2 separate regions of the Homo sapiens genome follow, and region 1 is linked to region 2. Evidence: fine-mapped expression QTL. A gene starts in region 2. The other region holds a variant in brackets. All regions are shown on one strand. Distances are from middle to middle.

Evidence for each region.
Region 1: its variant is fine-mapped to the expression of KCNQ3 in cerebellum (GTEx, PIP above 0.99).

Annotation. Positions count from the first base shown.
Region 1 is chr8:132,437,220-132,449,602 of GRCh38, reverse strand. All of the region lies in intron 1 of KCNQ3 (potassium voltage-gated channel subfamily Q member 3), which reads left to right. Among named protein-coding and RNA genes, the nearest start is that of KCNQ3, 38 kb to the left of the region's middle. The variant AGAAG/G (reference allele first, on the strand shown) is at 6,222.
Region 2 is chr8:132,473,731-132,486,113 of GRCh38, reverse strand. KCNQ3 (potassium voltage-gated channel subfamily Q member 3) reads left to right here and starts at 5,019. Exons shown (of 15, transcript NM_004519.4): 1 at 5,019-5,967. The coding sequence starts at 5,582.

The DNA of each region.
Region 1 (12,383 bases), 37 kb after region 2:
TGAATCTGAGGGCTCCAGAGGGAATACCATCAGAGATGTGTTTTCCTGTGGGGGTCTAGAGAGGTGGGAAAAGGGAGTGGCTGAGCTGGAGGACCTGAACTGGAAATCAGAACCATGAGAGGCAGAGTAGGAGCATCCTGCTGGGAGGTTGGAGGGCAGGCAGTTGGAGAGGCTGGTGTGGAGGGGGGATGGGAAATTGACCACTGTACTATGTTCACTGTAGACCACAGTGGTCTACAGTGAACACTGTAATCCGATCCTGTGGCCACTGGGTTTCACGGTCGGGAGTGGCATGATCAGATTTGTGTTTTGCAAGAGTGACTCTGCCATTGGCTGGAGAAGGGATGCGGAGGCAGGCATACACATGGTCTTTACAAGACACATTTCAAGATGACACCTAAAATTCACAATGAGGCCATTTACTAAGCTCCTGCCTTGTGCTAGGAGGTACACATGGGGCTCTAACCCACTGAATGGCTACAAACACTGTTAAACTGAATTTCATTATCCCCACATCGTAGCTGAAGAACATGCTCAGAGAGGTCCAATATTTTGCTCAGGGTCACACAGCCAGATGCAACCAGAATAGTCTACACCGAAGCCGGTGCTCTTCCTGCCGTACCGTGGCAACCTCACCAGTCTCTAACCCGTGTTGGCCTTTTTTCTCTCTCAGGAGCCTTCGGGGCCAGGGCTGACATTTGTGTTCAAGATGATTTCCTTCCTGCTCAAATAAATGCCAAACTAAATGATGGAAGTGATTCAGCAAGAAATAGAATTTGAGAGGGAAAAAAGAGCTGTGTGAAAACATTTACAAATGGATTAAAAATTTAAGTCCATCAACCCATGCCAACATACTTGGAAGTTTGGGAGATATTTTTAGACCATGAAATCCAAATGGCACAGATCGTGGGTTGGAAAGATAGAAACGCAAATAATAGTTTTCTAGCTGTGACCAGAGATTGCTTTTGCTTAGTTTTTCCTAGCTATAAAATAGCAACAATCAAAACGCAGAATTCACTGCAAGCACATCCTTCCTCCTCCTCCTTTTTACTTTTTCTTTTGTTTTCTTCTTCTTCCTCTTTTTTTTTTTTTTTTTTTTTCATATTTCTCCTTCTTCCCCCTTAGAGCTCAGCTTCTTGTTCTGGGAAAGCCCTGGAGAGACCTACGCCTACATGACGTTTGCTTTTGAACTCCCTTGACACTTTCAGAGGCTGGTAGCAGAAACCCATCTTAAACCAGCTGAGGCGTCCCAGGGATCTTGCTTGCTCATGGACCCCAAAGGAGATCAAGAAGGCCTGAGTGAGGGGTGTGGCTTTACAGTGAAGAAAAGTAATTGCCTTCCTAAGTTAGGGACCCACTGACTTAGCTGGGTTCAGGTGCCTACTGCAGAACCCTTATTCCCCACCTGTGTCTTTGGGTGAAAGGATCATAAGATGGCATGACAGCTGCTACAAAACAGGGGGCAGAATAGCTCCCAGGAAAAAGGAGGAGTGCTTGTCAAATTCTTTGACAATAGGAAGGAACGTTTATTGAGCATTTGCATTTTCCAGGCACATTTGTAGCTGCTTACCTGTGCTCTTTCAATCCTCACAACAGCCCCCACAAAGTAAGTGCAGCTAAAGGAAAATGAAAAGGGGATTTGGTTACGCTGTAGTGTGGTTGGGATGACAAATATGAGATGGTATTTATAAGTCGCTGGGGGTGATGCCCAGCAGGTAGTACTTACGCCGTGGTAACTTCTGTTTCCATCTCTTAAAAATGCTTTCAATTATTTTTATTTCTATCAGAGGAATACATACATATATTCAAGCCCAAAGTCATATAGGAAGGCAGGTTAAAAATGAAAAGCCACAGCCCCTTCCCCAGAGGCAGTCTCGTTCTTTCTGTCCTTAGAACTCCTGGTGGTTCTCCTGCATCTCTAAATCATGCGCTCGTGGCGCTGTCTCTTGATGAATCAACTTTAGGCACTTCTATTGATTTTCTGTTTTATCTTATCTCCCTTATGGTTTACGTCCTCTTTTCTTCTTCTCTCTCTCCCATAACCCAGCTCACCCGCTACTCTGCTCCTTCTTTTTCTTTAATCTCCATTACTTTTCTTTCTCCTGTTTTTTTTCAGTCTCTTTCCTCACACACAGCCAATCACTGTGTGGCCCACGCACAGGTACCCCTCCACCACCTCTTCCCCACCTTCTTCCTTTTCTTCTTTCTTGCAGTGTCTTCTCCACATCTGTGTCCTAGAAACCTTTACTGTCTGCCTGTGGTTTTCTCTGGTACCTTTATCTTGACCCTTGTCTGCCCATTCTGCCCTGCTTTAGGGTTATTTCTAGCTGTGTTACCACCACTTGTTAAAAATCTTGTTCTTGCATTCATTACCTTATGAAGCCTGCAGAACACGCCACGATGTAAGTCTTTGGATTCTCATTTTGGGGATATGAAAACAGAGCATCCTAAGATGGACTCAGAGTCCCAGGGGGAGAGGGAAAGAGCCACATGCATAGCTTATTTGGGGACCAAGTCTGATGTGACTCACCCTGGGTTCCCAGAAGGGGCTCAGGAAATGTTTGTTGTGGGATTGAACAGGAAGCTACCCTAATGGTAATGAGATGAATTGGACATTCCTCTCTGACTTCTATCGTTTGATTTTCTGAGGCCATTCACATACACACATACATGCTGTCTCACACACCACTCACGTGCTTCTGGCTTTAAATTCGTCTCCTCCTACATCTTTTTTATTGTTTTCTATTAAGCCTGATTTCTGTTTGGGAGGCAGCCTGCTTGTAACAAGCCTTTGGTAGTTTTGTCCTCCCGTCGCCTGGGATAATTTATGGGCTTGGAGAAAGGGAACTTGCCTCCTGTACTGTCAATATTAAATATACATTGCTTCCCTCACAAAATAGCATTCAGAGTTGTAATAAATCCTCTGGAAATTACCTGGAGTTAACTATGAGTTGGTTAAGTGCCAGTAATTAGCATTGCCTGGGAATTTTTGCTGACACATAGACTCATCCTGGTTGCCTTGCTTGGCTTTAATTGTATCCCGGAGCTCTAGAATTTTGGACCTGGAAGAGGTCTTCCCAGTCTAGCTCTGCTTTTCAGCTTAAAGGACGAAGAACCTGAACCCAGGGAAGGAGGGAGTTTGCTTAAGGACACACAGATTCCCAGCAGCCAAGGAGAGCAGAGTCCGGGTCTCCCAAGCTCATGTTTTCAGCCCCTTTGATCTGTTCATTTCCAGGCAGGGTGCTCTCAGGTCAAGCTAATGTGTGGCATGATGCAGTTTGCCAAGCTGTTTTGCACAGTCTTTCCAAAATTAGTTATTAATTGGGTGCTAATCTTGTTGGCCACCACGAAGGCATTGTCTTTAGAGTAGCTTAAGGTTGGTGGATCCAGGCTGAGGCATGTTGTGGAAGCCACTGCAGGGCCGTTAGCAATAAACATGTACCAGGAGGTCATCTGGTTCTTTTTCTGCTTGGAGAGGCAAACAGTAACCCAGCTTATCCCTTCTGGGCTCCCATCTGATAAAGACCTCAGCCTTTGAATAGACACAGATGATTAAATACAGTTCAGCTCTGCAAATGCCCATGGAGCACACTACTCTGTGCCCAGCATTGTGCAAGGTATCCCGGGCATATGGGCATGTAAGATGGACTTCTTGCTTGGAAAATTATAAAGTGTTTAATAGGCAGACAGATAGGGATGTAGAGAAACAGCTGAGTTCTAGCCTCAGAAACAGAGACTTGAGATGAAACCAAGGGTTTACTAACCGTATGACCTAGCCCAGTTCTGTAACCTTGGTGAGTCTTGATTTTCTCATCTGTGAAATGGGGTAGTTGTGAGACTTGAATAGGATTCTGTATGGGAAATGCCTGACACATAGTAAGAGCTCAGTAAATGATATTAATAATAATGATTTTTTGTGTGTTTTTTTGGGGTGGGTGGGTGGGGCTAATCACAGAAGAACTAAGGGTGCCCAAAGGAGGGAAAATTAATTTGATTTGGAGGATTGGGGAAGATGTCTTCATGGCTTTACTGCTTATTAGAGTCGTTTTTTTATTTCTTCTTAACTTGATCTTAGTGCCTCAGTTGAGTAATATCATTCATTCATTCACTTGATTTCCCTTAAAAATATTTATGTTGGGGATGGGGCAGGTGCATGGGGGAAATAAATGCAAGCTAATGTGTCCCTGCCCACAGTGAACGCAGAGTCTGGAGGAGAGAGGCGGGAAAGCCACGTGGCTGTGCTGCCCTGGGCCATGGAGACCTGCCTTGCCTTTCCTCCTCCTCACCTTTGCTCACAGCTGCCTCTCCTTCTCCTGATCTGGGGCCTGACCCTCTTCCTTTCTGAAAGGCCAGCTCTTTGCTTCCCCATGAAGTGACAGTGACAGGAATGTGACAATGTAATGCCACAATTAAGAGCATTTGGGACTTGGCTCCAAATGTCAGTCCACCCCTTTTCATGACACCAGTTGGTCCTTTTGCCTTTCTGAGCCTTAGGTTTTTGTGTCTATAAAACAGGCATAGAATTGTGAGAATTACAAGGTGATATTGATCGGGTGCAGAGCATGTTACCTGGAAACACCCTGAAGGCTTTAGCCCATATTACTACCCTGAAATCCAAGTCTCCTTATACTTTCTCACCAACTAATTTTGTTCTAAGAATAAAGCTCAATGTTTCTAGGTTCCTTTGTAATTTACAAAGCACTCTGCTTTGTCGAATCCTCATAATCAGGTGAAGTGAGCAGGAATTATTATTCTCTTTATTTTATATAAAAGGAACAGGCTTGGAGATGCTGATTGATGTGACAGAGTCCCATGCCTGATTCAGTCAAAGTCCAATGCCACCAAATCCCACGCTCTCTGCAATCTGCCATCCTGCAGCTCAGTTGGCGGAGCAGCACTGACCTGTGGTCAGCTGTGTCACACTGTGCATCTGTCTCATACCACATTCCCCGTAGCATTCTGTAGAGCTATGCTTATTTTAACATGCTCAGTTTGCACAACTCTATGAAGTAGGCTTGATTATTTATTCCTTTATTTTTACAAGAAGGAAGTGGAGGCACAGAAAAGTTACATGATTTTCCTAAGTTCAGTCCCAGCTGCTGGGCTGCAAAGCACCAGCTCCTGTCCTCCACACCATGCTGTCTTTTTATTATGAGTTTGTGCCTCATTATTTGGAATAAAATCCTTGATTCAACGATATTCAGTGTAGACCCTTCACACGGGGCAGGACAGATGACCCCAGTTGTAGCACGAAGGCACAGAATCAGAACTCAAAGTGCAGAAACAGAGCTTAATGCCAGGAACCAGTTGGTGGCTGGGTGAGGAGGGCAGGAGGGAGCACACAGGAGACAGGTGCAAAAGGATTAGAGGGGCATGAGCTAAATCACATGAGATAAATGGGCTCAGCAACCCACCCACGTCCTCTGAGCACTCACACCCCTTGGGAAATAGGGGTTGATGGAGTGGTAGCATCCTTTCTGTGTATTGCCAGAGGTGGACCCTGGAACCAGACTGCTGGGTTCAACTCCCAGCTCCATAACTTGCCAGTTGTGTCACTGTGGGCAAGTTTCTGAACCTCTCGGTACCTCTTGGGTTTCTGATAAGAAGAAAAGGGGGCAATGAACTGTGCTTGTCCAAGGGGCTTGGTAAGAGGATTAAATCACTTATTATTTATAAAGTGCTGAGAACAATGCTTGGCCCTTAGCTGTGTGAAAGTAGTTGTTGAGTAAATAAGACAAATGGGGGGGTAAAGAGTGTCAGAGGGCTGGGTGACCTGACCAGGGTCATAGTGGGTACTGGAACGGGACCTGAACTCAGGGCTCCTGGAACTCACCCCGTAGAAATCTACACTGTTTGCCTTATATTTCACTACTGGCTGCAAAATTAAGAAAATGAAACAAAATGCAACAAAAAACATCTACCCCAGTAGTTCTCAGTGGTTTGGAGATGAGATGAAGCTTTTCGAAATAAGCATCCAAATCAGCCTTGTGTATCTGTGCTGGGGAGGGGTGTGTTTGGAGGAGTGAGGTAGGAGTGTGGGTAGTGGGGGATGATGGATTTTTAACAAAGCCCTTTTCTCCATGTATCTTTTGAGAACTCTGGCTGTCACTTGTCTCTGACACGTGGACATCTCCATCCAGGCCCCTTTTTAAAACCTTTTGATTCTCATTAATGCTGGTTTTCAATTAAATTATTCTTAGCCCTAGAAACTACCCAATTAA[AGAAG/G]CAATTTTCTGTACTTTCCCTGGAAGTGATTGCTTACCTGGTTTGGTGGTGCCTTTAGCGGTGAACAAAGCCAGAGCGAATACTCCTGGGCCACCGGCTCTAATTGGTAGTGCTGGGGGTGGAAGGGATGGGGAGGGGTGTGATTCCCATAGGTGGGGGTGGATTTCTACAAAAGCTAACCTGACAAAGAAATTGGCTAGCCAAATGCCAGTCCTCCCCGACCCCCTCCCTACCTTTATTTCCAAAGGTTATGCTCAAGCGGGGCCTTAGCAATAGCTCCAATTTGTAATTCTAATTTCCTTGGAAATAGGGCTAAATAGAGCATTTGTCATTTCTCTCCATGTGGATTACCGGCCGCAGATGAGGATTTATGGCCTGAGCTGCTTCGGCCTCAGGAGCCTGTCTCTGGGGCTGAGATAGGGTGTCTGAGCACAGATTCGGGGAGAGGGTGTTGCATAGGGAGAAGGGGCTGGGTGTTGTCAGTTAAAAATATCTCAAACATTTTTTTCTCTAAATCTAGAAGAGAGAAAAAACCATGTATCCTGTTAAAGCTTCAGGTTGCCTGGTTATGAATAAAATAAGAAGCAGGAAAATGTTCAAAGGGAAATGCTTTGAGCACTGTGGGAGTGGTTTTTCTGCCCTGGATATTTCTTCTGGGAGAGAGAATGCCTTGACCTCATAGGTCAGTTGAAGACCAAGGCCCGGGTAGGAGCTCATGCGGCTCCCCGGGGTAGCTTGTATGGGGAACTAGGAGAAAATCTGGCCCACCTTGTTGGAAGCTAGAGTTTGAGAAGTTTGCCATTGGCATTTAGAGTCCATCTTTGCAGCCGTTGGTGCATTCTGAAAATACATTTTAGCCCTTACTCGTTGCCAGACTCTGTGCTAGGCACCAGGGAAACCAGTGGGGAACCCACACCAAATGGTTCTGCAGCTCCATGGAGTTTGTAGCCTGGTGGGGGAGACAGACATTGATCAAGGAATTACAAAAATAAATGTCAAATTACCCCCTTGCTAAGCTCTCCAGAGGAGAGGTGCCTAATGCATAAAGGGATTTATACTCCTGGGACAGCTCAGAGTGGGCTTCACAGATGCTGAAACTGAGATACATATGGAGGAAGAATCCGGTTTACTTTCTTTTTTTAAACTTTCATTTTAAGTTCAGGGGTACAAGCACAAGTTTGTTACATAGGTAAACTTGTGTCATGGGGGTTTGTTGTACAGATTATTTCATCAAGCAGGTATTAAGCCTAGTACCCATTAGTTATTTTTCCTGATTCTCTCCCTCCTCCCCACCTCCACCCTCTGAAAGACCGCAGTGTATGCTGTTCGCCTCTGTGTGTCCATGTATTCTCAATCATTTAGCTCTCACTTATAAGTGAGAACATGCAGTATTTGTTTTTCTGTTCCTGTGTTAGTTTGCTGAGGATAATGGCCTCCAGCTCCATCCATGTCCCTGAAAAGGACATGATCTCATTTTTTTTATGGCTCCATAGTATTCCGTGGTGTATATGTACCACATTTTCTTTATTCAGTCTATCATTGACGGATATTTAGGTTGATTCCAGAATGGCTGCTATTAAAACGTCAAAAAATGACATGCTGATGAGATTTCAGAGAAAAAGGAATGCTTATACACTGCTGGTGTGAGTTTAAGTTAGTTTAGCCATTGTGGAAGGCAGTATGGCAATTCCTCAAAGACCTAAAGACAGAAAGCCATTCAACCCAGCAATCCCATTACTGGGTATATACCCAAAGGAATATATATATATATATTTGTTTGTTTGTTTGTTTGTTTTGTTTTGTTTTTTGATTTTTGTTTTTTTGGAGCCAGAGTCTCGCTCTATCGCCCAGGCTGGAGTGCAGTGGTGCGATCTCGGCTCACGGCAAGCTCTGCCTTCCGGGTTCACGCCATTCTCCTGCCTCAGCCTCCCGGGTAGCTGGGACTACAGGTGCCTGCCACCGCGCCTGGCTAATTTTTTATTTTTATTTTTAATAGAGATGGGGTTTCACTGTGTTAGCCAGGATGGTCTTGATCTCCCGACCTTGTGATCCACCTGCCTTGGCCTCCCAAAGTGCTGGGATTACAGGCGTGAGCCACTGCACCTGGCCTACCCAAAGGAATATTAATCATTCTATTGTAAAGACACATGCACACATATGTTCATTGCAACACTATTCACAGTAGTAAAGACATGGCATCAACCTACTTTTGAGGTCTTCAAGTGTTGGGGGTGGGAAAGAGTGTACTGGGCCCCACCATTGCTGCCAGTCTTGACTGTGGCATGTGGGGCAGGTAAGTTACTTCTCCTCTTGGAGCCCCAGTTGTCTGGTCTGTAAAATAGAACTAATCAAATCCACTCCACAGTTTCTGTGATAAGAATAGAGAGTTAAGTGCAGGTCGGATATCTGGCAGGCCCTAAACCTTAACAGGTGAGAAGCAGAGTTCTGATTTCTTGATGGCAATGCCATACCCCTTTGAGCAGAAGGTCACTCATGGTCCCTGATAAATACAGTGTCACCTTTGAATAGGACTTGATAGGGCTGGGCTATGTATTTTGCAGGGTTTGGCCCACTTTAACATTCTGTGAGGGTGGCAGAGTGGCATCTGTCTGTGTTGCAGGAAGAAGCTGACTTCAAGGGGTTAGTAACCCCCCTCCTGTGTGTGCACAGTTGGTAAGGGGCAGAGGTGGAGTTCGAATCCAGATTGAGGCTGTCCAAAGTTAGTGTATTTTCTCCTCCTGCTTCCTTGTCTTCGTGGCGTGGGGAAAGGGTCACGTAACCCCTCCAAGCCTCAGTTTCCCACGACCGACATGGAGAACTACGCTGCACAATGGGGCGGTGACCAACACATTCATGTGTTCACTCTTCAGGGCACATTACACTGTGCGGGGCCAGGCTCTGGGCTTGGACACAGAGGGAAGGAAGGACTCAAGGCCACCCCTCAGGGCTGCGTTCTAGTGTGGGAAGACAAACACATGCCAGGAAATGAGGGGACGCCTGATACTGCAGGACCTGGTCAGCGCCATGAAGGACAGCAGGGAAAACGGTGGAAAGACTGTGCAAGTGCAGGGCAGCACTTCATCTGTGCTGCTGGCAGCTTCTCTCTGTTAAGATGACTTTGAGCAGAGACTGGAATGAGTAAAGGAGAGAGCCACAGAGATGACTGTTGGCATCCAAGAGTTCAAACCAATGGCAAATGGAAAACATTCAGAAAAATAAAAATGAACAATACAGCAATAAAACATGACACAAATTAAAAAGAAACAATTCAGTATAATGACTACTGACATAGCATTTGCATTGTATCAGGTATTACAGTAATCTAGAGATGATTTAAAGTATACGGAAGGATGTTTGCAGGTTCTATGCAAATAGTACACCACTTTGTATTAAGGATTGAGCATCTGGGATTGTGATATCCTCAGGAGGTCCCAGAACCAATCCTCTATGGACACTGAAGGATGACTGTAGTTTCCTACTTCTGTGTAACAAATTACCACAAATTTAGCAGCTTAAAGCAGTGTAAATTTGTTATTTTACATGTCTGAAGGTCAGAAGTCCAAAATAGGTCTCACTGGGGTAAAACAAGGTGTCAGCAGGGCTGTGTCCCTTCTGGACTCTGGAGAGAACCTGTTACCCTGCTTTTTCCAGCTTTTGAGGCTACCTGCATTCCTCAGCTCATGGCTCCTTCTACCATCATGAAAGCCAGCAGCACAATCTCTCTCTCACTCTGACTCCTCTCTGCCCCCTCCTCTGCTGGAAAGGAACCTTGTGGCTGTGTTGGGCCCACCTAGGTAATCTGGAATCATCTCTTTAGGGTCAGCTGATTACCATACTTTGTTCCTTCAGCAACCTTGACTCCCCTTTGCCATGTAACCTAGCATAGCACAGATTCTGGGGGTTAAAACATGAATATCTTTAATGGAGGCTTTAATGGAAGCACCTTCTTTCTCAGTGAGAAGTCCTGCTGGGGAGTCAGGGGGCTTGCCATGAAGCCGCGGTCCTGCTGCCTAACTGCTGGGAGACTGTGGCTCTTCATCTCTCTGAGCCTTCCATCTTTAAAATGGGCACTGAAACTTAGATTTATAATTGTGCAGTAGACTTCAAAAAGGTTTGCTGGGATGAATTGAATTTCCGGAGTCTGGTTTATCCTGATGAGTTTGCCGCTCAGTCCAGAAGTCATGTTACTCAGCAGGGGTAAATCTTGACTTTGCCAGAATGGGTTAGGGATGTGGGAAATCTAAACCCAGATGAAAAAATTGGTTCGGCATAAAGCTTGGTAGGAAGTATGGGGGTATTGGGAGCTGGCGTAAGTGGGATGGGTATTTGGGTCATCCAGGGTTATAGGATTTCTTCAGAAAATAAGGTACAAAGAGAAACTGCTTTTGGCCTCCGTCACACTGCGGCTGAAGACTGCCACTAGATAGCAGAATGTTCAGCCAGGCTGGAAATGGTTAAACAAAATGTTACATCTGGCTGGAATGGACCTTAAGGTCACTTCATAGAAGTCCACATGCAATGCTTGAATCTCTTCTTCAAGAGCCCTGAGAGTTGTAGCCTAGACTGTTCATGAACCTTCTTAGTGATAGGGAACAACACACGGCAGCTATCCTTAGAGAGTCTTACGCTGACCACATTTCCTTTCATTGACCTGAGCTCAGTCTCGCTGTCTCTTTCCACAGTATTAGTTTTTCTCCATGAGCGCCACAGAGAATGACCAGACCACCCAAGCCAGGGCTCTCCTAGCAGCTGACCACCATCCATCATCACTCTCAGAGATGTTACTGGTCCATCACCAAGCAGCCGCACCCACACGTTGCAGGGGTTCCCTTGGGTAAGGAGCCTGGCCAGGGCCTCTGGGTTCTGAGCACATCTCCTGTTGGTCATCACAGACCACAGAGAAATCAGGCAGAACTCTTCCTCAGGAAAATAATAGAGGGCCCAGTGGAGTCCCTAAGTTCCTCAGATAGAAGGAGGAATGGGCAGGGTGGGATCGGGGCAGAGACCTTAAATCCTGCCACTGTTTTCTACTGCATTTGGAAGCAGCCCAGGAGCTCCAAGGATTGAGACAGCTTGGTCCAAATGTCAGAAGGAGACTTCAGTGTATCTGAGGACCTGAAAGAGGCAGGAATTCTAGTCTTATATAATACAGACTTGAATAGAAAGCAAATTTTCCTGAATGTATTTCTCATAAGAAGAATCACCTTATAATAGAAAGCAGTTTTTCCTAAATGTATTTCTCATAAGAAGAATCACCTAATAATTGAGTCCTTACAAAATTTTTATTATGTGGCACCATCTCAGTTGTTTTATTTTGTGACAACAGGTTACAACAGGTTCTTTGAGGAAGGGGCACATTTGCCTGTGATATAAACATAGTAGTGCTAGTTTTAGACACTTGTAGCAGTCACTCAATGGAATTGGCTTCATGCACACACACAAAGCTGCTTAATGGATTAAATCATTTTTCCTGGGGCAATGTTCTTACAAATGCAAGTTAAACTGCTGTGAACAATTATTTTAAAGATCTATGAAAGAAAAACCTCAGTAGAGTTAGTGGTTATAGTGTAAGGATCCTCAAAGATGGATGGGTATTTGGGGCCTGGGACAGAGTTTTCAGTGACAGCATCACGGATGGCTTCAAAAGATGTATCTCTCCCAAGCAACCTAGATGTATGAAAATACGGTGCATGAGAATACAGGATGCTCTGGAAAACTGAGTTGAGGAATTAGAGTGTATAGAGGCATCAGAAACAGTGATATCAAAGAATAAATGGTTTCACCAAACGAGTATGGCAAATTAGAAATATTTCTAAATGAACACATATGCAGAGTATTAAATTTCTATGTGTAAACTAAATTAATACATTAAATGTTAGAAATAGACACTTAGCTTTTCAAAGAACAGGCACATTCAGTATTCCATGTTCACCTGCAAGGGAGGCAGGAGAGGAACCACTGTCCCCATCTCATATTTTTGGAAACTGAGGCACAGAGACCAGCCATGAGTGGATGCCAGAACTAAAACCTTAGGCCTGTCCCCTACACCACCCCACTCTTTTTTTTTATTTTTTTTATTTTTTATTTTTATTTTTTTTTTGAGACGGAGTCTCGCTGTCGCCCAGGCTGGAGTGCAGTGGCGCAATCTCGGCTCACTG
Region 2 (12,383 bases):
AATGAGATAATCTATATATAGCAGTCAGCCCAGTGCCAAGTGTAGAGGAAGCACACGATAAATGTTATTATGATAATAAGCATCCATCACGAGCCAGGTCATTGACAGCAATGACCGTAGAAAGATGAGTAAATTGTTTTGCATTTTATTAGCTCATCTTTGGAACTAAATATAGAATTAATTTTTTTTCTTCTGTTTTTCATTGATGGAGAGCAACACATAAAACAGGCAATTGGTGAATGCTCACTGGAAGGATGAATGAATGAATTCGTTAAGTAGATAAATTGGATATTTTACCCAACATAATTATTTAAAAGAAAAAGACAAAAGTGACATTAAGAAACATGCAAAATTAATTTGAAGGTTAATGTAAAAATTGCAAATGTGAGGCAGGAAAAGAAACACTTTTCCAACTGAGAACAATCTAAGTTAAGCCCCTTAATCATTCCCATCTGGAGAGAAGGTGAGCGCCGTTTGGCTTGGAGCTCATTCATTCCCCATCATGCCTGACTTGAGTGCCTTCCACGATGCTGTGTCAGATGCCTTTCAGTAATGTAGTCAATGTGCACAGTACATCACAGGCTGCAAAGCCCTACCTTAACGTGGATCCTGGGAGGAATGATACTCAGACCAAGTCTAAGGCAGGGAGGATAAGAAACATTGTCCCATTGAACAGCTGAGGAAGCAGGCTAGAAATAAGTCTGGCAACTTTTTTCAGGTCACTAAGTGCAAAGTCACAGAGCCAGGACGATCTAAATGCTGAACTCTATTCTGCCCTCCTCTGCTGAGTGACATGTACAAGGGTGTTCCTTAGCTTCTTCTCGTTCCTTCCCAGGAAGGCTTCTCACCTGTAAGGGAACAAGAGTTCCTCTGTCCTAGTGTACAGTGATATGAAGTCTAGGAAAGGGAAAGACAAAAAGAAGACCTGGAGGAAGAGAAGAGGGGGCAGTAAATTTGAGGATTTGCTGAGATTGGGTTTTCAAGAATAAAAAACGCATATAGGGTAGTAATGGGATCCATTGTTCCCAAACATATTTCCTTTTGGCCCGGGTTGTTCCTAGACCCAGAATTAGAGCTTGTCGTGTCTCCTCCAAACAAGCAAAGAGTGCTCTTTTTGGCTACAAAGATCTGTCTCACTGGCTCCTCTGAGAGGTAGATTTATACCCAGGTCCAGAGTAAGCATTTAGGGGACAAATGATTTCATCAGAAGTAGTTTCATGTGGAATTCTTTGACGGTGAATGAGGCATTCCTAAATGCATGGATGGTGTTGTTGGCAGAATCATTGAGGACTGGAGAGGCAATTCTGTACCCAGGATACGTGTCTATTCCAGTAATGGCATATGTCCGCCCCCGCCCATGTTTGGAAGGTCCAGTGTAATCAACTTGCCACCAAGTGGCTGACTGGTCCCCTAGGGAAGGTGCCCCACTGGGGGCTGAGCATCTCCATTGCTTGCAGGTCAGGCATGCTTCAGTCCTGTTGGCAGTAGTCATGATCAGAATATTCACAGAGGGTGTTTCTGGGTAACAAGATGATTACTGTTGCCTTCTGGCTGATTTACATTTCATAATTTCCTAACAACTACTTTGCATTTCTTGTGTAACAAATAATAAAAGTAAATTTAAAATTGGCCTAAAGCAATTATTTAATGTGTTTAGGGAACAGAGTGAGAGGGGCAGGCAGGACCACCATTTGCATATGCCTGTGAACCTGAGACTGTCCTACTCATTCAATGACAGTCATAATAACCATCACTGGAATATCACCTCATCATGAGATGCTTACAACCCTGGATTTACAGAGGCAGAAATGTAGGCTCAGAGAAAGCCCTTTGTCTCTCTCTTTTTACTCATTCCCAGGAAGTGCCTCACCTGCAAGGGAGAGAGAGTTTACCTGAACATCTCGCCTATACATTGAGATGAAGACCAGCTAAAGAGAAAAGCAAAAATGAAAGCTAAGGCATGGAGGAGGGGAAGCAGGTGGGTGGGTTTTCAATGTTACACTTTGAGCTGGGGCTCAAAGCCAGGAGAGGAATGCCTCATTGTTGTCCTTGTTGATAGTGTGTCGCTAACTCTTTGCTTTGGTGCCATGTTCAGCTGGAACCTGAGGCTCTTAGGGACTTTAGGCCTCTGAGAAGTTTCCTTCCAGTGGGATATAGGATGTTTGATTTTCTTTAGCTGAAACCTGTGCTGTGGAGCGCTGTGATTACACAGTTCCTCCAATGACACTCAGTGCACACCCTGCTTTTGATGACATTTCCAAAGCCCCTATTAGAAGCCTAAACACTGCTTGCCATTGGATTATAAAACCATCAAAGCAACTCCATTTACTAGACTCAACTACCTGGCAGTTTCCCTATCATTGGGTTTAATTGGCTCAGTTATGAATTTGTTATTGACTTAACCTCATCTTTTATGGGAGGCATGCAAATAGCCCCTGCACCTTATCTTAAATTGTAATACTTGACAGTCTGAAGCTCCCATCAAAATAGAAGTCTTTTCATGTATCTGAGGATCCAAACTGTCATTCTGGGAATCTGAACTTTTGATTAATTGCACAATAATAAATTCTCACATCTTCTTTCCACATTCCTTGACTCGTCTTCTTTTTATGTTTATCTAGTGAGCCTTTTTATTTTAAATACTGTCAAAATGTTTTTATCATGTTTCTTAAGTTGCAAGGAGCATAAAGGAGCAGCAAGACTTCCTAAGTATGAAGACTTTCACAATGGTAAAACGAAACCAAACAAAAATCTCACCCACAAACATACATGGAATGCTTGTGTGCCAGGCATTGTGCTGAGAGCTTTACACTCTTCATTCGCTTATTCATCATTTATTCATGCTGCCAACACAGATTGAGAGCCTGTGATATGACAGACACACTTCCAGGATTCAAAACTAGGATGCTTAGTCCCTGCTCTTGTTTAGTAAGATAACAGTAAACAAGTAAACAGAATGTAAATGCGATCATTTTTGGCAGTGATAAATGTAATGAATGAACAAAACAGGAAGAGACTGAGGGAGAACAGCGACTTTGGAAAAGGTGCTCAGAGATAAAGGGCAAGATTGTTTCCTGGTTAGTTGGGATGGGAGTAGGACAGGAAGAATACACGTGAGTTTGGTGTGTTGGGCATGGCAGGGCTAACACATGGGCAGGAGGAGGCTTTGCAGTGCCCAGCTCCCATTTGGAGATATTCTGATCCAAGCAATTCCCTTTCCTTGGGCTTTTTCTCCTTTCCAGAGCCTGCTGGACTGGTTACTTACTCCAACTCACTGCTGAGCATTTATCTATTCACGGATGTACAGGGGTCCTACTGGGCACTGCCACGTTTCCATATGCTATTTCCTATAATTCCTCACAAAACCCATCAACCAGTGAACAGCCTTTTCCCCTGGGGTTCTTGTCATGAACTCTTCCCGTTTAATATTAAGTTCCCATGCTAGAGTCTGTTTCTGGACAAAGAATTCTGTTGCACTGAGAGTTTATTTTTGTACCGATCCCACACTGTTTTAATGATTTCAGTCTTACAGTTTAACTTCCTCTGGAAACTCCTCCCTTCTTGATTTGGAGACCTCTTTTGAGGTTCTCCCCTTTGATAGTCATTCTATAGGGTGGTGGTTCTCTGACCCTTCCCCTGCCCCAGCCCATACATTCCTACTCCCTTCCCTTCCTTCTTCCCTTCCCTGTCTCCTATGCTCTCCTTGGCCAACTTCTCCAGGCAAATCCAGAGCTGGTGTTCTTGCAGGTCTGATTCCTCTTTTCTTATACACTAGGGATAGATCCTCGGCCTTGTTCACAGGGTCTCCCCTCACCCCATGTCTCTCACCCCAGCTGACAGACATGAGGTGAGAGAGTGGGAAGGAAAGGAGGCCACAGATGCCATGGGGCAGCAGGAATGGAGGCTTCCCCGATGGCGGTGGGCATGGAAGAAGTGCAGGATGCTCCTGTCCTTTGTCAGTGTCTTACAAGATCTAGCCTTTGCCTGTGGCCTACTCTCATTAAGCTCAAGCCACCCTTCCCCTCCGCACCCGCTGTTCTGCTGTTTGGAGGGCTCTCTGGACATTTACATAGTTGCTCCCAGCTTGTCATTAGGGTCTCACCTCGAAGCATCACCTCCACAATAAGGCCTTCCACGACCAGCCGGTTTAGAGTGACTCCCCCAGTCACTATAGCGCAGCACTCTAATTTGTTACCACATACTATTTACCAATATCGGAAATTCTACTGTTAAAATTTGTCTTTTCATTGTCTTCCACCGGCTAGGACGGAGGTCTTAGGAGTGCAGAGACCTCATATCTTCAGGACAGAGATCACTACCCTTTGCCAGGGAAGCTCACGAGGGGTTACAGATTGGTTGATTGAATTGAAATTTGGACCAGAGAGGGAATGACTGGCTTGGGTGCAAGTCGGGAGCAAAGCAGGAATCAAAGATTCTGACTGCATTTCTTCAGTCCTTTGCCCACCCAGACAGGTGAAGGTGCTATTCAAAGATTGGGGGAGGAGAGGGCCGCGGCATCCACCATGAACCACGAACTAGAGGGAAGAGGGAAGAGGGAAGAGGGAAGAGGGAGTCACGAGCTTCGCTACCACAGAGCAGGTGCGTTCGCGGTGCGCCCGGCCTTGACCAACCCGACAACTTGGCTTTTACCTCTGAAGCCGAGGAGCAGGGGTAGGGGGTGAGGGAAATTCACAAAGCTGCAACCACAGAGCCAATGTTTGGTGGGCGACAACCCCCCAGTCCCTCCTCCCTTCCTCTTCTTCCCCCAACTGCCCGCCGTCACGCCCCATCCAGGGGAAGCCCCAACGCCCACGGGAGCTCCAGGAGCCGGGCTCTGCAGCCGCCTGGCGCACTGCCTGGTTGCAACGGGGGCGGCGGTAGCCCAGGCGATCCTGGGTCCCCAGACAATCAGCGGTGGGGGTCGGCGGGAAGAGGCGGGGCGCCGCCGCCCGGGCCTCCCGCCGCGACGGGGCGGGACAATGGGGCCCCACCCCGGGGAAGGAGGGAGGGAGGGACGCGGCGTGCTCTCGGCCCGCGGCGCGCTCGCTGCTGCTGCTGCTGACAGGCTGAGGCTGGAACGGGCGGGGAGGGGCGCGGGTGGGAGCGCGGAGGAGGGAGGAGGCGGCGGCGGCGGCGCGTGTGGCTGGCGGGCGGGAGGGCGGCTGGCACCGGGCTTGTAAATAAACTGCGATGCTGTCTTGGGCTCGCCGGCCTGGGTGCCGCCGCCGCCGCCGCCGCCCCGGAGCGCCGGTTCCAGGCTCCCGCCGCCGCGCGCCCTAGCGCCTCCGCGCCAGCCTCGCGCGCCCTCCCAGCTTCTCCGCAGCCCCCGGCCCGCGACCCTCGGGGTCCTGCGGCTGACCCGCGCGGGATGTGACCCCCTGACCCCCTGCCTGGCCTCCCCTGCCCCCCAGGGGGCCCGCCTTTGCCTGCTTTTGGGGGGGGGTGGGGAGGGGCGCGCGGATCATGGCATTGGAGTTCCCGGGCTTGCAGCCGCCGCCGCCGCCTCGTTCACGCACCCCGAGCGCCCCTTCTTCCCAGAGCAGCAGCGGAGAAGGCGAAGCGGCCGGCGGGGGCGAGGCAGATGGGGCTCAAGGCGCGCAGGGCGGCGGGGGCGGCTGGCGGCGGCGGCGACGGGGGCGGCGGAGGCGGCGGGGCGGCTAACCCAGCCGGAGGGGACGCGGCGGCGGCCGGCGACGAGGAGCGGAAAGTGGGGCTGGCGCCCGGCGACGTGGAGCAAGTCACCTTGGCGCTCGGGGCCGGAGCCGACAAAGACGGGACCCTGCTGCTGGAGGGCGGCGGCCGCGACGAGGGGCAGCGGAGGACCCCGCAGGGCATCGGGCTCCTGGCCAAGACCCCGCTGAGCCGCCCAGTCAAGAGAAACAACGCCAAGTACCGGCGCATCCAAACTTTGATCTACGACGCCCTGGAGAGACCGCGGGGCTGGGCGCTGCTTTACCACGCGTTGGTGTGAGTACCCGGCCGCTCGGGGCGCCCTCGGCGGCGGCGCGCTTGGGGACTTGGGGTCGGGGCTGGAGCTGAGAAGTCTCTGGGGCTTTAAGACCCATGGATGCTTTCCCGCTGAAGGGGAGACCAGCCCGTCCTCAGCACGCGTTTCCCTGGGTGTGTGTGTGTGTGTGTGTGTGTGTGTGTGTGTGTGTGTGTGTTGCCGCTCTCCGGGTGTTCCACACTAGGGGCTTAAAAAACGAAGCGTGGTTCCCCTGCTGATTTGGGCGGATGTGTGCGCGCGCGGGTGCACATTTATGACATCTTCTAGGGGTGTTGGTTTGGAAGCTTAAAATAATTATGTGGGTTTTTCCAATTAATGTGAGGGTTGAAGAGGATAAAGCGGGTCCTCCCGTGAGCTCTGTGTTTCTGTTTCGGGTGGATCCCTTCTGTTGGGATCGCCACTGAGTTTAGTTGGGGATGGGAGGGGTGCGCACCACCCATAGTGGGGAGCGTGTGTGTGTGTGTGTGTGTGTGTGTGTCGCTTGCTTGTGCCACCCTTCTGATCGCTGGGTACTGGTACAGAGAAGAACCTGGTGCTGCTCTGACTGGGAGCTGGGACTGGCCAAAATGCATGTTCTAGGATTCCTTTTAGGGAAGTGAATGGGAACGTGTGTGTCTAAGCCTAGACTGAGGGGCTGGGGCTTCACAGAGCCAGGAGGTGAGGGGGCCGGGGACTCTTTTGGCTGAAACATCTCCTTGATTTGGGATCCGATATTCCCTCAGCCTCAGTCGCTGCTGCTTCTCCTGCTTTGGCTGGCCTAGGGCACCGGGAATGTGAGGGGCTTGGCCTGGAGGTTTGCACCCAGGCACTGTTCTCCTAGAAAGAATCTCCTTGCTAGTCCGATGTAAATGCATGGCCAGAAGGAAGAAGGAACTCCCTCTGCACCTGCCACTGGGGATGGAAAATCCACCCGTATTTGGGAGGGGGGAGAGGATGGTGGGGGTGCTCCTCATTCAAGATTGGAAATCTGTGCTGTCAGCACCCATCTCGGAGCTGGCAGGGCACGTCCAGCCATCAAGCTCTGCCTTCTGGCTCTGGTTTAGTCATCCTGATGGCTGCTTCTAGGAAGCTGTACTGTACCAGGGTTTTGGCAGGGAATTGCCTATGACCTTGGCAACCCCCCCTCCCCCCTCTCTCCCCCACGCGTTTAGCAGTGGATTTTCCTCTCTATTCTCCTCCAATTCACCCATGACTGATGTGGTCGGAAGGGCTCAGGAGCCTTGGAGTTAGTTACACTACCTGCCAGTTTTTCTTGGTTAGAGACGTTTTTCTAGGTTCGGCCACCAGGTGGGGGCGTCCACACAGGACCTCAGACTTAGCAACAGGTTTCTTCAAGGAGGTTACCAAGCCCGGAGAGGGTGCCTTCCCGGAAACTAAGGAACCAGCAGGAAGGGTGGGGTGGGAGTGGGGCATTTTCCCAGAAACGTGGATGTTGGTGTCTGTATGAGTGTGCGTGTGTATGTGTGTGTGTGTGTGTCTATTTGCAGGTGTTGGTCGGGGTCTGGTTGGAGAGACGGCTTAACAATTGTTGCTCTTTCATTTGCTCTTTTTAGGTGGCCGAAAAAAAAGCATTAAAATACATTCCTCTCTCTGTCTCTAGCAATATGTTTAGTTAAATTGAAGTGAATACTGAAATATGTGATAGTTAAAAAAGGCACAAGAAGTTCGTTGAGTGCACACAGTCATACAATGATTCACGTGTCCTTTCACATGCACATCGCGTTCAGTACGTACTGACTGAAAAACCTGGGGGTCCTATGGAAGCATGTGGGCTCCCTCTTTCTTCTCTTCCCACCTTTCCCAGCCAGCACCTCCAGCCCTGCCTTGTCCAGTCTGGGGAAGGGAATAGCTAAAGCTGTTACTGACTGAGCCTCAATTTTATTTTTTTCTAGAATTATTGCATCACCTGGAAGCAGATTTGATAATGCCAAAACCTGGAGCCTGTTTCCCAAAAAGGATCCAGGAAAATTTAAGACTTTGTGAGAAGAAAGTCAGTTACCTAGCTAGGAACTATATATGCAAATGCATATATATGCAAATATGCAAATGTACTAATTTTATTTAATCCTCACACAGTACTATTAGATGGAAATTATTATCTCCGTTATATAAAGATATGAAAACCTCAAGAGAGAAAATCACTTGTCCGCGATCACACAGCTAAGGTTCCTGGAGCTCGCATTTGAATGCAGTGGGTTCACTCTGTTTCTGAGCCAAGATTCCAGTTCTGATGCTCTTCCAACAATTGTGGGACCCTGGGTATTTTGCTGAGCGTCACTGGGTGCCCCTTTCCCCATTGTTAATGCAGGGCCATGAGTAATTCCTTGGCCTCCCCTTGCTAGCTCTCAGATGGCAAATTGCTAGAAATGAGAGTTTAGAATCAAGTTGGGGGCTGGTCAGAACTCAGGAAGCCACAGTGTTAGGAAAATTGAGGATGAACTGGGGTGGTGGTGGGATTGCGGATTCTGATAAATTGGGAGCTACACAGGAAAACCTGTGTTGAATTCCCATTGAGCTCCTAATATTGAAGCATACTTACTTAGTACATGCATAGTACATTCTCCCTGCAGCTTAGGAGACAGTCCAGTCAAGTGAACATAATTGAACCTTTCCTTGATGATTCAGGATTTTGCATTGAAATTTATGTTTTCAAGCATCCATTATCTTGTTCTGGGCTGTGGCTAATGGCACAATGGGCCCAGGAAATTGGGCTTACCATAGGCCTACAATCTAGTGGATGCTTTTTTTTTTTTTTTAAATTAAAATGAACCAGGTCCATGATGAGATTATTTTTTTTCTCCTTCCTAAAGGTAGAATACAGGAAATATGGAAATCAATCAAACCCTTACCTTGTTTCTTTTGCCTCAAATGCTGTATTAGTCTGTTTTCACAGTGCTATAAAGAAATACCTGAGACTGGGTAATATATAAAGGAAAGAAGTTTAATTGTTTCACAGTTCTGCGTGGCTGGCGGAGGTGGGAAGGGGTGGTCTCAGGAAACTTACAATCATGGAAGAAGGCAAAGGGGAAGAGGAAGCCAGGCACATCTTACATGGTGGCAGGAAAAAGAGAACAAAGGGGAAGAGCCACACACTTATCAAACAACCAGATCTCCTGAAACTTCTATCAGGAGAAGAGCAAGGGGAAAATATGCCCACATGATTCAGTCACCTCCCACCAGGCGACTCCCACAATATGTGGGTATTATAATTTGAGACGAGAGTTGGGTGGGGACACAGAGCGAAAACATATCATTCTGCCCCTGCTTCCTCCCAAATCTCATGTCCTTTTCATATTTCAAAACCAATCATGCCTTCCCAACAGCACCCTAAGGTCTTAACTCATTCCAGCATTAACTCAAAAGTCTAAGTCCAAAGTCTCATCTGAGACAAGCAAGTTGCTCCTGCCAATGAACCTGTAAAATAAAAAAAAAGTTTGTTACTTCCAAGATACAATGGGAGTATAGGCATTGGGTAAATGTTTCCATTGCAAACGGGAGAAATTGGCCAAAACAAATGGGCCACAGGCCCCATGCAAGTCTGTAACCCAGCAGGGCATGCATTAAAAAAGCTCCAAAATAATGTCCTTTGATTCCATGTCTCACATCCAGGCCACCCTAATGCAAGGCTTGGGCTTCCATGGCCTTGGGCAGCTCCACCCTTGTGACTCTACAGGGTTCAACTCCTGTGGCTGCTTCCATGGGCTGGCATTGAGTACCTGTGGCTTTTCCAGGCACACAGTGCAAGCTGTCTGTGGATCTACCATTCTGGGGTCTGGAGGACGGTGGCCCTCTTCTCACAGTCCAACTAGGCAGTGTCCCATTGGGGATTCTGTGTGGGGGTTCCAACCTCACATTTCCTCTTGCACTGCCCTCACAGAGGTTCTCTATGAGAGCTTCACTCCTGCAGCAGACTCCTGCCTGGACATCCAGGTGTTTCCATACCTCCTCTGAAATCTAGGTGGAGGTTCCCAAAGCCTAACTCTTGTCTTCTGTGCACCCACAGGCCCAACACCACACAGAAGCCACCAAGGCTCAGTGCTTGCACACTCTGAAGCAATGGGCTGAGCTGTACCTTGCTCCCTTTTAGCCATGGCTGGAACTGGAGCGGCTGGGACACAGGGCACCAAGTCCAGCAGCTTCACAGAGCAGTGGGGCCCTGGGCCTGGCCCAGGAAACCATTTTTCCCCCCTAGGCCTCTGGGCCTGTGATTGGAGGGGCTGCCACAAAATTCTCTGATGTGCCCTGGAGACATTTTCCCTGTTGTCTTGGCTATTAACATTCAACTCCTCATTACTTATGCATATTTCTGCAGCTGGCTTGAATTCCTCCGCAGAAAATGGGTTTTTCTTTTCTACCACATGGTCAGGCTACAAGTTTTCTAAATCCTTATGCTCTGCTTTCCTTACCAATATCAGTTCCAATTTCAGACCATCCCTTTGTGAACGCACATAACTGAATGTTTTCAGAATAAGCCAGGTTAACTCTTGAATGCTTTGCTGCTTAGAAATTTCTTCCACCAGATACCCTAAATCATCCTCTGAAGTTCAAAGTTCCACAGATCTTTAGGGCAGGTGCAAAATGCTACCAGTCTCTGACAGAGCATACCATAAGTGTCCTTTACCCCAGTTCCCAATAAGTTCCTCATCTCCATCTGAGACCACCTCAGCCTGGACTTCATTGTCCATATCACTGTCAGCATTTTGGTCAAAACCATTCAGTAAGTCACTGGGAAGTTCCAAACCTTCCCACAATTTCTGATCTTCTTCTGAGCCCTCTAGACTGTCCCAACCTCTGCCCATTACCCAGTTCCAAAGTCTCTTCCATACTTGCAAGTATCTTTATGGGAGTGCCCCAAACTCCAGGCACCAATTTCCTGTATTAGTCCATTTTCACACTGCTATAAAGAAATACCTGAGACTGGGTAATTTATAAAGGAAAGAGGTTTAGTTGACTCACAGTTCTGCATGGCTGGGGAAGTCTCAGGAAACCTACAATCGTGGCAGAAGGGGAAGCAGGAATGTCTTACGTGGTGCCAGGAGAGAGCGCAAGAGTGAAGGGGAAGAGTCACACACTTATCAAACAACTGGATCTTATGAGAATTCTATCACGACAAGAGCAAGGGGGAAATCCACCCCCATGATTCAGTCACCTACCACCAGGCCACTCTGGAAACATGTGGGGATTACAATTTGAGATGAGTTTTGGATGGGGACACAGAGACAAACCATATCAAATGCCCATCCCCTGCTTTCACTTGGTGACTCCCCTTCACCTTGGCCCAGCTTCCCCAGGCATAGAATTTTGTACCTCGCATTTGATTGATCTCTGCTTGTCTGCCCTGTTGAGCTGAGAGCTACTTGAGAGTGGGAGCTGCTTATTCTCCTGTAACCTTACCACTCCACAGCAGGCTGCAGAGTGCATGGTAGGTACTAAGTAAGCATTTGCTGAATGGATGCATGTGAGAATTCTGTAAGGGTTCTGGTTAATCAAGACTTTGCTGCAATAGCTTTACTACTATCCCAGTAACAGTAAGTAGTCAAAGCCAGCATTACAGGACTTTAATTATAAGAATAGTTCTTAGAAGTCCAAAAATGGACTATGGGAGAGAAAACAAGATTGGAGACCATGCTTTAACTTGAGTGAGGGTGATCACTTCTCTAGTTTTTTTAACCTTATGGCTGAAAGAGATTCTGATTTTATGAAAAACATGCTAGACTTGGAGTTCACATCTGGACTGCTTTGTGTCTCTGTGACTGCAGGAGTCAAGTTGGGGATGACCTATAAATTGAGGATGATTACACTACCCTATCACAGGGTGGTTTTTAGTCTCAAAGAATAGTATATATGAATGCAGTTAGCCCAACACTAGGCACTCAGTATACATTAGTTAATTCTGAATAGGGATCTCCTTAAAAGTCATACATACCTGACACTGTGACTGTCCTGAGGCTGTCCAGGGATTCCCCTTTCTTTGCCTGTTAGTGAAAAGATGCTGGCTTCATCTTGGCATTCATCTCATTTGGCACTGGATAGGCATCCTGCTGCCCTGACCATCTTGCCACAGCCAGCTGTGATCAATCACTCTCCTGTTGACAAACCAAGGGAAAATGATCACAAGAAATACCCACTGACTGCATTCTGAGGTATGCTTGCTCCAGGGACATCTGGCAGGCAAGACTGGGTAGTGAGACACATGGAGCCAGCAGCTGCTCTGGAACATAAAGGGCCTGCCTAGTGGACTTAGCATGTTGACAAGAAGATCTATTGTCTTCAGGTTGGAGGAGACACTGAATGCCCACTTAATGCTGTCGGTAATGCAGAGTCTTCCCAATTTGGAGGTAAGATAAATTTGGGCCTCCAAACTTGCTTGCTTCTT